Linked DNA regions of Homo sapiens. The protein of the gene in region 2 interacts with the protein of the main gene of each other region in a pairwise test. Each region holds a gene or a part of one and is shown on either strand. Other genes may lie near its edges.

The links. Proteins that work in one complex are often made in the same cells at the same time.
Region 1: the proteins of DNAJA3 (region 2) and MET interact in binary tests that used the Homo sapiens proteins (3 or more experiments, as listed by UniProt).

What each region holds. Positions count from the first base shown.
Region 1 is NC_000007.14:116,752,196-116,759,220, forward strand, and holds part of MET (hepatocyte growth factor receptor isoform b preproprotein), read left to right. Parts: intron 1-3,159; coding exon 3,160-3,320; intron 3,321-5,241; coding exon 5,242-5,344; intron 5,345-5,442; coding exon 5,443-5,579; intron 5,580-6,263; coding exon 6,264-6,425; intron 6,426-7,025. UniProt on the Homo sapiens protein: Receptor tyrosine kinase that transduces signals from the extracellular matrix into the cytoplasm by binding to hepatocyte growth factor/HGF ligand. Regulates many physiological processes including proliferation, scattering, morphogenesis and survival.
Region 2 is NC_000016.10:4,449,845-4,456,869, forward strand, and holds the end of DNAJA3 (dnaJ homolog subfamily A member 3, mitochondrial), read left to right. Parts: intron 1-555; coding exon 556-653; intron 654-4,966; coding exon 4,967-5,070; 3' UTR 5,071-5,083; exon of another isoform or gene 5,084-5,084; intron 5,085-5,701; coding exon of another isoform or gene 5,702-5,724; 3' UTR 5,725-6,931; downstream 6,932-7,025. UniProt on the Homo sapiens protein: Modulates apoptotic signal transduction or effector structures within the mitochondrial matrix. Affect cytochrome C release from the mitochondria and caspase 3 activation, but not caspase 8 activation.

The sequences.
Region 1 (7,025 bases), on a different chromosome or scaffold from region 2:
TATATTTGTGAGTTCTACTAAAGAGGAAAGGAGACCCCTTTTGGAGTTTTTTTGTTCTGTTTTGTTTTTGTTTTTTAGTTTTCTCATGTTTTATCCTAATGGGTTTTGAAAGCATGATCATTTAAAATACTGTTGGAATGGGCCCATCAGTGATGTGATCTTTCACCTGTGAAAAGACAAGGGCTACTTTTGTGGCTGTATCTCCCCTATCCAGACAGGTAGGAGACCCAGCCTCTGTGGCTTTATGCCGGACGCTCATTTCCTGCCCACAGAGTTTCTCTGCCCTTCAGGATAACTCAGAGTTTGCCAGCCATTGTTGGGTCTATCCAAGGGTGTGTAGTTCACAACTGCTTCCTTCCTTTTTCCCTAGAAGGGTAAAGGTTACCCCATAAGCTAAGGGGAAAATGCCCAGCCCAGAGAGAAAAGCTAAGCAGAGCGAGCCTCTTGGATCCTGAGGGTCTAGCAGAGGGCTTATAATATCTCTTCCTATTGCCAGTGCCCCAGTTGCGCAGCTCTCTGCGTCTTTTCTCAAATCATCACCCAATCCGTTTGCCTTTTATAGAAAGTGATGGTAATGATGTGTGTAGAGTGACAGACTTCAGTTTTTACATAGAAAGACGGGATGTAGGCAGTGGGATCAGGCCAACATCAGCCTTGGGCAGCGTTTTCAGTGGGGAAGCCTCCTCATTAGAAGAGCCGGCAGCAGCTGTGTGACTGCCTCAGGCTGAAGAGAGTCCTGGGAGGGTTGGATGTCTTGTTCTCTCCTACTGGATTTCTACCATAATAATAATAAACAGATTTATTTTTCTAGTAGTTCTCATTTGACTAGACATGGATGAGGTAAATTTTCAGGAAAGGCACAACAGTGTAATGGATTTTTATGGGTAAAATGGCTATCATAAAAGCTTTAAGCTAAAACTTTAAAGGGGTTTGATAACGAGGGTACATTAAGACTTTGGTTTGCAATTATTTACTTAGGAAGGATGGAAATGTTTGCAAGTTTGAATTTGGCTAAAAGCCCTTCTTAATTGTAAAAGAATCACTTTTAGATGTTCACAAGCTGAGCTTTAGCAAATACCTTTACTGGTTCTTGAGTTGCCTCTATCTTAGTTTTCCCACCATTGTACTTTACAGCACAATTTACAATATGTCCCCACCCCCAAAAGAGCATTTCCTTTCTCAATTGTCACAAAGCTGCTGAGAAGAAGCTTATTTTTAACTTGGAAATGTGTTTTGTTTTAATAGTTTTAGCCTGAGAGCAATTATCTTACACACTTTATAGGTGCCTAATGCGGTCTTAAATCATGACTGACCAAGGTTTATCAATAAATCCATTGATAACATACCAGAAATGAGTCTGCAATAACAAAATGAGTCTGTTATTTGCTTAACATCAACCATCAGGGGGAAAAATTTAATCCTAAAAATGAGATATAAAACAATACCAATGAAGATAATTAGGAAAAATTGTTACAATACTGATTTTGGGCCCTCTCTGGTTCCGTTTTTATCTATTTCTAAAAGAAACAACATAACACATGTATTAAATATTACATAATTTTTAAAAGGCTGAGTGTGTCAACTAACCAGCCTGGTATACATCAAATAGTGACCATATTTAAAGAACAAGGAAAAATCTTCAGTCATTAATAAATGTGAACTAATAGGTAAAAAGAAGTAGATTCACTTTTCATTTGTTAGTGCCTGGTGCATAGGAGGTGCTTTATTAAGAAATAATTAATGAAACCTGGGCAGCATAACAAGACCCCGTCTCTACAGAAATTTAAAAATTAGCTGGGTGAGGTGGCGCACACCTGTAGTCCTGTCTACTAGAGAGGCTGAGGCGGGAGGATTGCTTGAGCCCAGGAGTTTGAGGCTGCAGTGAGCTAGGACTATGCCACTGCACTGCAGACTGGGCAAGAGTGAGACCCCCATCTCTAAAAGTAAATAAGTAAATAATGAATGAATGAATGAATGAATGAATTATTGGCAGATATGTGTTCCAAAACCATCTATATGTTTCATATTATGCTAGCTGCTGAATGCAACTGGGCAAACACTGGATACCAAATGAGGTATTTTTACTGTGCAACTTTTGTCTCTGGGTGGGGAATACCATAGCAACCAGAATGTAGTGCACGCAGCCAGTGCACAGAGCAAGGCGTATAATGGCTGGACCTTGGCTTATAGAGCACATGAAGGAGTTTGATAAGAGCTCAGTCCGAAGGCTGATGAAGAGTTACAATCAGAGTTATGAGCAAGTAAAAGTCTGGGCCCAACGTGTTTCTACTCCTACCCTAAAGAGCCCTAGAAGATGAATTCACTTCAGAATGGCCCAAAAAGGGCCAGGTCCAATGGCTCATGCTTGTAATCCTAGCACTTTGGGAGGCCAAGGCAGGAGGATCACTTGAGCCCAGGAGTTTGAGACCAGCTGGGCAACGTAGTGAGACCCTGTCTCTAGAAAAAAAAAAAATAGCCAAGCATGGTGGCCCACGCCTGTGATCCCAGCTACTCAGGAGGCTAATGTGGGAGGATTGCTTGAGCTCAAGAGGTTGAGGCTGCAGTGAGCCATGATCACGCCACTGCACTCCAGCCTGAACAACAGAGCCAGACTCTGTCTGAAAAAGAAAAGAAAAGAAAGAAGGAAGAAAGGAAGGGAGGGAAAGAAAAAGAAAGAAAGAGAGAGAGAGAGAAAGAGAGAAAGAAAGAAAGAAAGAAAGAAAGAAAGAAAGAAAGAAAGAAAGAAAGAAAGAAAGAGAAAGAAAGAGAAGGAAGGAAGCAGAGAAAGGAAAGAAAGAAAGAAAGAAAGAAAGAAAGAAAGAAAGAAAGAAAGAAAGAAAGAAAGAAAAGAAAGAAAGAACGGAAGGACTCGAAAAGCCCCTTTATTCCTACCAAGCTGCATCTGCTCTTTGTCCCATCTTTGGATCTCCTGAAAACAACTTGTTTCATTAACATGTCATGTAGTTTTAATGTTTGTTCCAGATGCTCTGAAATTTGTGACCCTTTTCCCTTTAGTGAAAATTAAATTTTTACTAAATTGTGGGAAAATGAAAGAATTTCAGACTATTTAAGGATATACATTTTGTTTGTTCGTTTTCCATATATGTGAAAAATTATAATATATTGGGTTTTTTTAAAAGTTCTATGTTGTCCTTGTAGGTTTTCCCAAATAGTGCACCCCTTGAAGGAGGGACAAGGCTGACCATATGTGGCTGGGACTTTGGATTTCGGAGGAATAATAAATTTGATTTAAAGAAAACTAGAGTTCTCCTTGGAAATGAGAGCTGCACCTTGACTTTAAGTGAGAGCACGATGAATACGTAAGGATCTTAAAATGCTTTGCTGGGGTGTGCTTGGAAAATAGGTTTTGTTTTTGAATGAATATTTCTTTTAAAATTGCTCAAGAAGCTCATCTCTTGAATTAAAAAGGGTCTTGGCCTGTCACATGCCTTGTGGGTCTGTTCTGTTTTGTTCTTGTAATCCCATTTACTCATTGGATTTGAAGAGAGAGAAAGGTGACATGGCCTAGGTGAAGAGAAGAGGCCAGAAATGGGAGTTTCTCAACCATTTATGCGACAAGTCTTCAGGTGTTGTCTGAGTAGATTTGCAAGAGTAGCACTAGTTGGGATCACTTCATCCTTGGAGTCTTCAAATGTAGAGTCTCCAAAGGCTTTTTCTACAGAAATCAGTAAACAGCTCAGCATGGATCCTCTCTTTTAAATTCACTTTCTAAACCTCAGAAATGTAGTGAGGCAGCTGAATCACGTGTTTGAGACTTTTTTAGATGAGTTAAAATTTATATTCAGCTTATATTTACTGGCACTGCAATATATGGGCTGTATCTCACTGAACCATCCCCACGGTCCTGGGAGGGAGCAGTATCATTCCTATAATATAAAAGAGGTACCTGAAGTTCAGAGAGATGAAGTGTGGCTTCACAGAGGTAATCCAGAGAGTAAGAGCTGAACAAGCCTTCAGCTCAGCTCTGATCATCTTCTGATCCAAGACCCGTGCTAGTTCTACTGTATTCTACATGTACCCTTCTACAAGCTTTGAATTCCATAATCATCAGAGAATCCAGAAATTATTCATTATCACATAATAACAACACTCAAATATTTAAAGTTTTATGGTTGAATCTTTATGATTGAACCCATTCTATCAGGTGGTTATTTTATATCTAATAGAATTCATTTCAGGGTTACACAAAGGTCCGAATCTATCCATTTTACTGAGACCAAAACACTAATGAAGGTAATATTTGTTAGCTGAATGGCAAAACAAATTTTTTCTAGAAATCTCCCTTGTAAAATCTCCAAAACTCTTAATCATTGCATATAAATCAGGACCTGTAAAAGTAAAGCATAATTCATTCTCTCCTTTAAAAAGTTATTTAATAAATCAAATTGTATTTAAATTTTCTCAGAACTATATGATTATTCATTCAGAAATAATTCTATGGAAAGCCATCACAATTTCATTATCATTTAAGTAATTTAAATAAGCATGTACAAGTATAACCACAGAAATGTACCTGTTGACATACTTTAATGAAGAGATTGGCCTATTTGTAGTTAGCCCATTGTTTCATATGCATCTGAAGTGGACCAAAGATTATCCCCAAATATTAATATTATCCAAACTTAGATTATTATGCACTATTCAACTGGTGAGGTCTTTATGGATAAGGTCTGATATTTCCTGTTTGTCTGTATAAGTGCTATAGTACCATTAATGTAAAGTTTAGTATAAGCAGGGTGCAGTGGCTTACGCCTGTGATCCCAGCACTTTGGCAGACCAAGGCAGGAGGATCACCTGAGCCCAGGAATTCAAGACCAGCCTGGGCAACGTAGTGAGACTCCATCTCTACCAAAAAAAAAAAAAAATTTTTTTTTAATTAACCAGATGCCGTGGCATGCACCTCTAGTTCCAACTCCTGAGTCCAGAGGATCCCTTGAGCCCAGGAGTTCAAGGCTGCAGTGAGCTATGACTATGCCACTGCCCTCCAGCCTGGGTGACAGAGCAAGATCCTGTCTCTTTTTACATAAAAATAAAAGTTAAGTTTATCATAGTATAGAAATAGGATTATATAATTTTTGGCCTTAATGCTTATCTTGAAACTCTGCTTGCTATTCAAAGCAGTCAGCTCACCATTTAGAGTTAATGTCACTTCCTATAAAACAACCTAACCAGAAAATTCCTTGGATTTGTCATGTATTAAACTTTGGGTTTTTTTTCCAGATTGAAATGCACAGTTGGTCCTGCCATGAATAAGCATTTCAATATGTCCATAATTATTTCAAATGGCCACGGGACAACACAATACAGTACATTCTCCTATGTGGTAAGGAAGATTCTATCCTATCATGTTTGATTTTTACTTAATCTATTTAAATTATAAGATGAACAAGTTACTTTGTTTTGTTTTTATCTCCCCTCCAGGATCCTGTAATAACAAGTATTTCGCCGAAATACGGTCCTATGGCTGGTGGCACTTTACTTACTTTAACTGGAAATTACCTAAACAGTGGGAATTCTAGACACATTTCAATTGGTGGAAAAACATGTACTTTAAAAAGGTGTTGTAAATTTATTTTTTGTTGCATCTGTCAATTTGAATTAATATCTGTACCTTAAAAATTAAGCAGATTGTTTTGTGTGTGTGTGTGGAGAAGAAAAATCAAGATGTTTATTTGTTTACTCTCCTACTGACAAAACTTCCTCCTTCCAAAATTCATCTACTCCTTTTGCTGATTTTTCTTCCTTTCTCTTGTTTTTTAGCAATCCTACTTTTCAGTTTTGTCTTCCCATCCACCCTCTTTATTGTTATAGCTTAGGATCTTAGCTATACTATGAGCTGTGAGAGTCTGGTCATTGATAATAATTTAAAATAAACATTTTCATCAAGATTTGTAATTAGACTAAGTCACTCTGGGGAAGGAAGAAATGGGGAAAATTGGGTCTGGAAGACAGTTATGTTTCTGCTTCTTAGAGTTGGAAGAGCTCAGTTTAATCAAGTACCAAAAGTACTTTAAAGGTTTTTTTTTCAAATCTCAAATGTTTTCCAGTCAAGGATAGCTTGTCCACAACAAAGGTAAGTTTGAGATCCAGTCAGATTAAACAGCCTACACTAGAAAAGGCTTCCACTCAGGAAATTCCCACTTAGGAACCATTGAGTTATATCCTTTTGATTTGTGGATATAATTCTAAAATATGTGTATCTCTAATAGCTAAAATTCACTTCCTTAATTTTTTTTGTTCAGTGTGTCAAACAGTATTCTTGAATGTTATACCCCAGCCCAAACCATTTCAACTGAGTTTGCTGTTAAATTGAAAATTGACTTAGCCAACCGAGAGACAAGCATCTTCAGTTACCGTGAAGATCCCATTGTCTATGAAATTCATCCAACCAAATCTTTTATTAGGTAAGTAGAAGCTTCTGATGGGTATAAGAAAACAATGAATACAAGGATGATTTTGCTGTAGAATAGTCAAGAGGAATTGCAGTTTTATCTCTGGCTTTGATGCTGTTATGTTGCTTTTGAAGGCTTCTTTCCAATTCAGGAGAGAAAACTATATTCAGGTTCTGAGTGTAGTTTGACTTATCAATGCTAGTTCATTCCAAGAAGTATCTTATCCTGTTCTATTACATTTAAACAGAGTATAGCAAAATAGTTTAATGTGGCATTGTAGTATACATGCACTTACATTATGTACATATCAATTCTATACTAACCTTAGTGCCCAGAAGTGGAATTACCTTTTTTCTTCCATTCTCTAGATATGTTTTTGTCCTGCCTGCTTTACACACAGCTTTTCTTTATGCCAGACTCTCTTTGAATTGATATCTCATTGGACCCAGTTCAATCTGCCTTGTTTCCGTTAATTCTATCAGTCTAGCAACAATAGTTAAGTTCGGTTTTCTTTGTATTTTTTTCAGAGGTGAAATATTTATTTTGTGTAATTCGGTGAATAAAATACAAATGCATTTCTTAAGCTTATGAAATATGCATTTTAAAAATATT
Region 2 (7,025 bases):
TCTCTAGGTGGAGTTCAGTGGTGCAATCTCCACCTCCCAGATTTAAGCAATTCTCCTGCCTCAGCCTCCCAAGTAGCTGGGACTATAGGCATGTGCCGCCACGCCCAGCTAATTTTTGTATTTTCAGTAGAGACGGGGTTTCACCTTGTTGGCCAGGATGGTCTCTATCTCCTGACCTTGTGATCCGCCCACCTTGGCCTCCCAAAATGCTGGGATTACAGGCATGAGCCACTGCGCCTGGCCTAATTAGATAATTTCTTACTTGCTTCACATACACACTGGTAAAATCTGTTTCCCCTCCTGTAAACTGTATTTAGCATAGCCACAGTGACACTTGTTTAAATGACTTAGTGTAGGGTGTTTTAGGAGCTTTTCTGTACAGAAGCTTTGAGGGCATGGTCCTTAGGTTCTCACCGCTGCACTGGCTCAGGGTGTCCGCCCCTGCCAAGGTTGGGTCCCTCTCTTCCCATGTGCTGCGAGGGTGCTGGCTGCCTGTGAGTTCTTTCCAAAGCTTCCCGGCGGAAGCCTTGGCTGCTGACTCTGCTCGGTCCACAGGAGGCTAACGAGCCGGCAGCAGAGCCTGATCCTGAGCTACGCCGAGGACGAGACAGATGTGGAGGGGACGGTGAACGGCGTCACCCTCACCAGCTCTGGTAAGGAGTCTGAAGACTACATGGTGACACGTGGGGGCCTCAGAGCCCCCCAGGGTATGGACAATTCAGGGCAGCATGTTGGGGTTTCCACTTCGGGTTCTTCATGAAGCCTTTAAAATGTGCAGTTGAAAGAGGGGGGCTGTGGGCGGGGACAGCGGGCAGGGAGCCGCAGCCCCCAGTCCAAGCTTCGCCTCCTCTCTCTGTGTGTGTTTCTGTGCTGAGGTGAGAGCACCAGGGCACTTCCTGCAGGCAGCTCTGCGTGTCTCAGACCCAGTGTTCTGAGTTCTATTCTTGGTTCTGCCACTTGCCCTGTGACCTCGGACAAATCCTTCCCTGAGAGCTCCTGGCAAAAGCGTAAGGAGAGAGCATGGATTGGAAGGATTTGTGCACTTCCCACCTGGGACACTCCGCCAGGATTTCAGAGTGTCTTAAAACAACAGCAGCCACAGCAGTGGAGCCGCAGTCAGCAGACTCCGTCCGCCGCTTTAGAGCAGGACTCCCTCCAAGTTATCTAGCCGTGAACAGATGCACCATTTACCCTGAGCTCAGACATCGTGCTAGCGAGTGGCTGTGTTAGGGATCTGTCACCAGAACACCTGCTGTGGGCGCTGAGACAATGGCACCCCAGCTGCAGCCCCTCTTCCCATGGGGTCTGGGGCCTCTTTCCTGGGACTCCTGGCTCAGGGCAGGGCAGGCTGTGCCCAGGGGTCCTTGGTTCAGGCGGCATGTATTTCCTCCTCATTGCATCATTTTGTTTTTGTTTGGATCCTGGGTGGAGTTCTCAGAACTTGAGCAGCCTTAGATTAGTGCATGGTAATTCGTAGCAGGTGTTTGGAGCTGGGGGCCGATTTTCCAATAAAGTGGAGGATTTGGAGCTCCAGGGGCAGGGGCAGGGGCTGGGATGGAAGTCCCTGGAATTTCACTGAGCTCCTGTTGCTCCCAGGGGACTGGAATTCCTCTGTTAAAAAGCAGCTGCCGGCCGGGCGCAGTGGCTCTTGCCTGTAATCCCAGCACTTTGGGAGGCAGGGGCAGGTGGATCACTTGAAGTCAGGAGTTTGAGACCAGCCTGGACAGCATGGCGAAACCCCATCCCTACTAAAAATACAAAAATTAGCTGGGTATGGTGGTGCATGCCTGTAATCTCAGCTACTCAGGACGCTGAGGCAGGAGAATCGCTTGAACCCAGGAGGCAGAGGATGCAGTGAGCCAAGACCACACCACTGCACTCCAGCTTGGGTGACAGTGAGACTCTCTGAAAAAAAAAAAAAAAAAAAAAAAAAGGGCCTGGCGCGGTGGCTCACGCCTGTAATCCTAGCACTTTGGGACGCCGAGGAGGGTGGATCACGAGGTCAGGAGTTTGAGACCAGCCTGACCAACATGGTGAAACCCTGTCTCTACTAAAAAAAAAAAAAAAATACAAAAACTAGCGGGGCATGGTGGTGGGCATCCATAATCCCAGCTACTCTGGAGGCTGAGGCAGGATAATTGCTTGAATCCAGGAGGCAGAGGGTGCAGTGAGCCAAGATTGCACCACTGCACTACAGCCTGGGTGACATAGCGAGACTCTGTCTCAAAAAAACAACAACAAAAAAGCAGCTGCCACAAAACTCTGTAGCCCAACCAGGTTCCAAATGTCACTTATTTTAATGGTTTGGTACATATACTGTGTATATGTATACTATCTTTTGTTCTTGTTGTATCTCTTGAACTAAAATAGAAGTGGTAATAGAGTAGCTATTCCCCGGAACTCTAATCAGTGCACCTGTGGCTTCTCCTTCCTCAAACCCTACAATCACATAACATGCGAGATTGGTTCCATAGACAGCTGTCCTTCCCTCCTCCCGCCCATCAGGGTAGCTTGAGGTGTGCTACGGCCGGGCCCTGGGTGGGTTCGTGGGTGTTGCTTACTCTGTTGGAGGTTGGGTATTACTGGTCACCAGTTGATGTTTTGACCCTCTCTCTGATACTGTAAGTTGAAAGTTGATTCCGCCACCCACTGAGATCCTTTGTCACTTCCATGGTTACTTGTCCTGATCACTCAGCCTCACTCAGCTGTTCCCTCACTCAGCCAGGATGTCTTCTCCTGTGTGCAAGACACTGTCAGCTCTTCCTTTTAAAGATCTTGGTGAGGCCGGATGCAGCGGCTCACACCTATAATCCCAGCACTTTGGGCGGCTAATGCAGGAAGATCACTTGAACCCAGGAGTTCGAGACCAGCCTGGGCAATATAGCGAGACTCTGTCTCTACAAAAAATTTCAAAACTAGCCAGGTGCAAAGTAGTATGCACCTCTATCACCAGCTACTTGGGAAGCTGAGATGAGAAGATCACTTGAGCCTTAGTACTCAAGGCTGCGGTGAGTCATGACAGCGACACTGTACTCCAGCCTGGGTGCCAGGGCAAGACTCTGTCCCTAAGCATACACCGTCACATGTCAGTCTGCTGCCTGTGGGTGGTTAAGTCTCTCATTATACTGTGAAGACAGTTAGTTTTGCATCCACATATGACAGTATTACAGGACATATAATTCTCATGTCCTAAGAACTTAAGCAACAGTGGGATTTATTTATTTATTTGAGGCAGAGTCTTGCTCTGTGGCCCAGCCTGGAGTGCAGTGGTGCAGTCATAGCTCACGGCAGCCTCAAACTCCTGGACTCAAGTGATCCTCCCACCTTGGCCTCCCAGAGTGTTGGAATTACAGACATGAGCCACTGTGCCTGACCAGCATAGTTTTTGATGCGTTTAGTATCTTAATGTAGCTGCTGAAAACCTTAAGAGCTGACCCCGGTCTCCCAGAAAGACCATGGTGTGCTTAGAGACTCAGCACTTGCAGGGATAAACAGGTCCATCTTCTGGCGAACAGAGAGGGAACTGGGGGGGCTTGCAATTACTATGTGACTTTTTGAGTGAGAGACACAGTATGGCTCCTTGTTGTTCTTTTTTTTTTTTTCTTTTTTTGGAGACGGAGTCTCACTCTGTCACCCGGGCCGGAGTGCAGTGGCGTGATCTCGGCTCACTGCAACGCACTCTGCCTCTTGGGTTCAACCAATTCTGCCTCAGCCTCCCGAGTAGCTGGGACTACAGGTGCATGCCGCCCCTGGCTAATTTTTTGTATTTTAGTAGAGATGGGTTTCACCATGTTCGAGGCCGGTCTCGAACTCCTGAGCTCAGGCAATCCGCCTGCCTTGGCCTCCCAAAGTGCGGGGATTACAGGCGTGAGCCACTGTGCCCGGCCTTTTCTTTTTTGAGACTGGGTCTCACTCTGTTTTATGTAGCCTCCCTCACCCCTTCCCGGGGACCTGTGGCCCCAAACTTTGGACCTTTCACTAGCGAAGGCACCTTCTTACTTAGACTGAGGCCTTTACTCTTTTATGCACTGTGCGTGGCCTAGGTCTCTGAGCACATTAAAAATGAGCTCTACAATTAACATGCCAAGTTCAGGTCTATATTCTAACTCACAACAAAAGTGTGCACTCCTTGTCTAGTAGTTGGCAAATCTGTAACACGTTTGTGTGAGAAAGTACCTCTAGATGGTGTCAGCCTGGGCCCTAAAGAAATTGCAGCACAGCTTCCCTAGGTTGAGAGCATTTAGGTTAGGTGCCCCAAATGGGGACAACTTGCTCAGGGAGATAGACTGCTGATGTGAGGGATGAGATGGAGTGCCTGTGACAAAGGATTGTGCGTGGCCGTGACTCCCACATGGGCTGTTCTGCAGGGTCTTTGCGCACACAGCAGCATGGAATCTGGCCAGTTGGTCTAGAGTAGGGTTTTTCTTGGCAGTCATTATTTACCTTCTTATAGCCAACAGCATGGTGGTTGAGTCTCAGCTTTGGAGTCAGACTGCATGGGCTCGCACTCAGTCCTCCCTCCCGCTTGTTGGCTCTGTGGCCTTGGGTAAACCCTGTAACCTCTCTGTGCCTCCTTTTTTTGTTTTTTCATCTGTGAAATTTGCCTGTAAGGAAGTGTATGGCCTGGCCTGGGAGGTGCCTGGCACTTGACTGTGTTTTTGTCACTGTTGCTCAGATAGAGACAGCTGTCATAGTCCGTCTCTATTTCTTGTTTCCCTGCTGTGGGTCCTTGATTGAAAGAGCAGTTGGGAGACCCTCAGGCTCTGAGTGGCCTGTTCACCTCAGTCGTCTGCAAGGTGAGGCATCCTGTGCCATCTTAGGAGTGGCCCCCACTCTTCTTGAGGTGGCACTTGGCCGCTTCTTGAACGTGGGCCCCTGGGTGGCCAGGCGGGGGTAGGTGGGCCCTGGGATGTGACTGTGGAAGTGCAGGCCCATGACGCCAGTTCTTTCTGCTGTTTGTGCCCAGGTGGCAGCACCATGGATAGCTCCGCAGGAAGCAAGGCTAGGCGTGAGGCTGGGGAGGACGAGGAGGGATTCCTTTCCAAACTTAAGAAAATGTTTACCTCATGATATCCCAGCCGAGGTAGGAAAACCCTGGAGGTTTTTTTTCCCTTTGTTTTCCTCTGTGAACTAATCCTGGTTTTCTCCCACTTTAACCAATATTGTGCCCCCACCCCCAGGAGTTGGAACAGGTGCCAGTCCAAGGTGTGGTAAACCTAGCTCCACTAGGAGCTGGCCTCTCAGCCTAGGGAATAGATGACGTGGCAATCAGCCTGTAGTGCAGGACTGGCTGGGCTGCCGCGGCCAGCCTCTGGCTGTGTCTTCTTCCTGGGGAGGTGGCGATGCTGGGGCTGTTGTACAGCCCCCCTGCAGTGGTGGGTCCGGCTTGCCCATGGTCACAGAGGGCGAGTCAGGCAGAGCCAGGCCTAGAACTCAGATCTCCTCACGTCCTGCCTGCTTGGAAGCTGCCCTCCTGCGTGGACAGCGCAGGGCTGTGCAAGCCTGGGGGCTGCTCCAGGGGTAGCGCTTGCTCGCCGTGTCATCTTGGGACCCACTTTGGTTTATTATGCTCATCTCAGCAAGTGGGGTTCTCGCCCCTCTCTTGGCACAGCTGCTTTCCAGGGATTAACAGACGCTCCCCACAGGGGTGTGTTCCCTTGAAATGTTGAGTATAAGGTAACAGCCTATCTCTTTGGCTCAGGAAAAAGATCCACTGGAAACTAGGCCGGGAAGCAGCAGCCCCTCCAAGGGCCAGGGCACCTGGGAGACGGGAGGATTCCAGAACAGCAGCACTGAGCTCCCACCCGCAGAGCCTCTGGACGGCCTTGGCAACAGCAAAATCATGGGACAACACCTCTCTCCACGGAAAGGTCACAGTGGACAGCCCGGGCAGTAGGATGCAGCCCCAGAGGCTGGTGGCAGTTTCCTGTCCATTGGTAGGTGACGGCCCCTGGCTCAGGCAGAGGGAGATGGTTAGACTCTTGCAGGGCTAAAACTCTAATTTGGAATTGAATATTGTGGATATCTTAGTTAAAGGCCATGCTTACAGCTTAGAAATGAAGCCTTAAGCTGCATCAAGTTACGAAGTGATTAATTTCCTTCTCAGCAAACCTCCGGGAGGTTCCAGAATGAGTTCTTCCTGACAGGTTGTCTTCACTGGGAGCGTGGGGCCCCCAGGCCCCACCAGCACCGTCCTCCCCTAATGAGGGGCCCTGCCGAGGCATCAGCTGCTCTGCTCAGTTAGTTTTTATTCCCGGGGTACCAAGCAGCTGCACAGTCGGTGCCTGGGAGGCACGTAGAGGCCCAGAGAGTCCCTGGGGGTTCTGCTCTGACCGTGTGGGTGGTGATCCTTGTCAGGATGTACAGTCCTTGCTCCCACCCCATCCGGGATGGCCGCCTGTCCCTGACTATTGAGTCCTGTTGTTGTAAGCCAGGCATGGAGGGCTCCTGCCCTTCTGCTGAGCCACAGCCCATTGCAGCACTGTGCTGGCCAGACTTCAGCTGCCTTGGGAACTGAAGCCCTGCCACTGTTGCTAGTCAGGGGCTTGGTTCTCCCACTTACACTGTTGACATCTATTTTCTGAAGTGTGTTTAAATTATTCAGTGCTAATCATTGTTTTTTCCTTTGTAAATGTTGATTCAGAAAAGGAAAGCACAGGCTAAGCAGTTGAAGGTTCCCCACCATTCAGTGAGAGCAGAACCCCCATTCCCCAGCCTCTGCTGGTAGCATGTCGCAGTTTCCATGTGTTTCAGGATCTTCGGGCTGTCGTTAGACAGGTTAATGAAGAACACTTCTCAACAGTTTCCTTTTTGTTTTCCTTTATAATTCACTAAAATAAAGCATCTATTAGTGTCTGATTTAGGAATGTAAAATGATTCTGTATTAATGTAAATAAGATTATCTATTGCAAAAAGATATTTCAAACCTAAATTGTGGTCATTTCTTCTTTGAAAGAATTCAGACAGCCTCTGCAGGTGGCTTATGGGGGTTACAGGAGACTTGGCTGGCCTCATCCTGTGCTCAC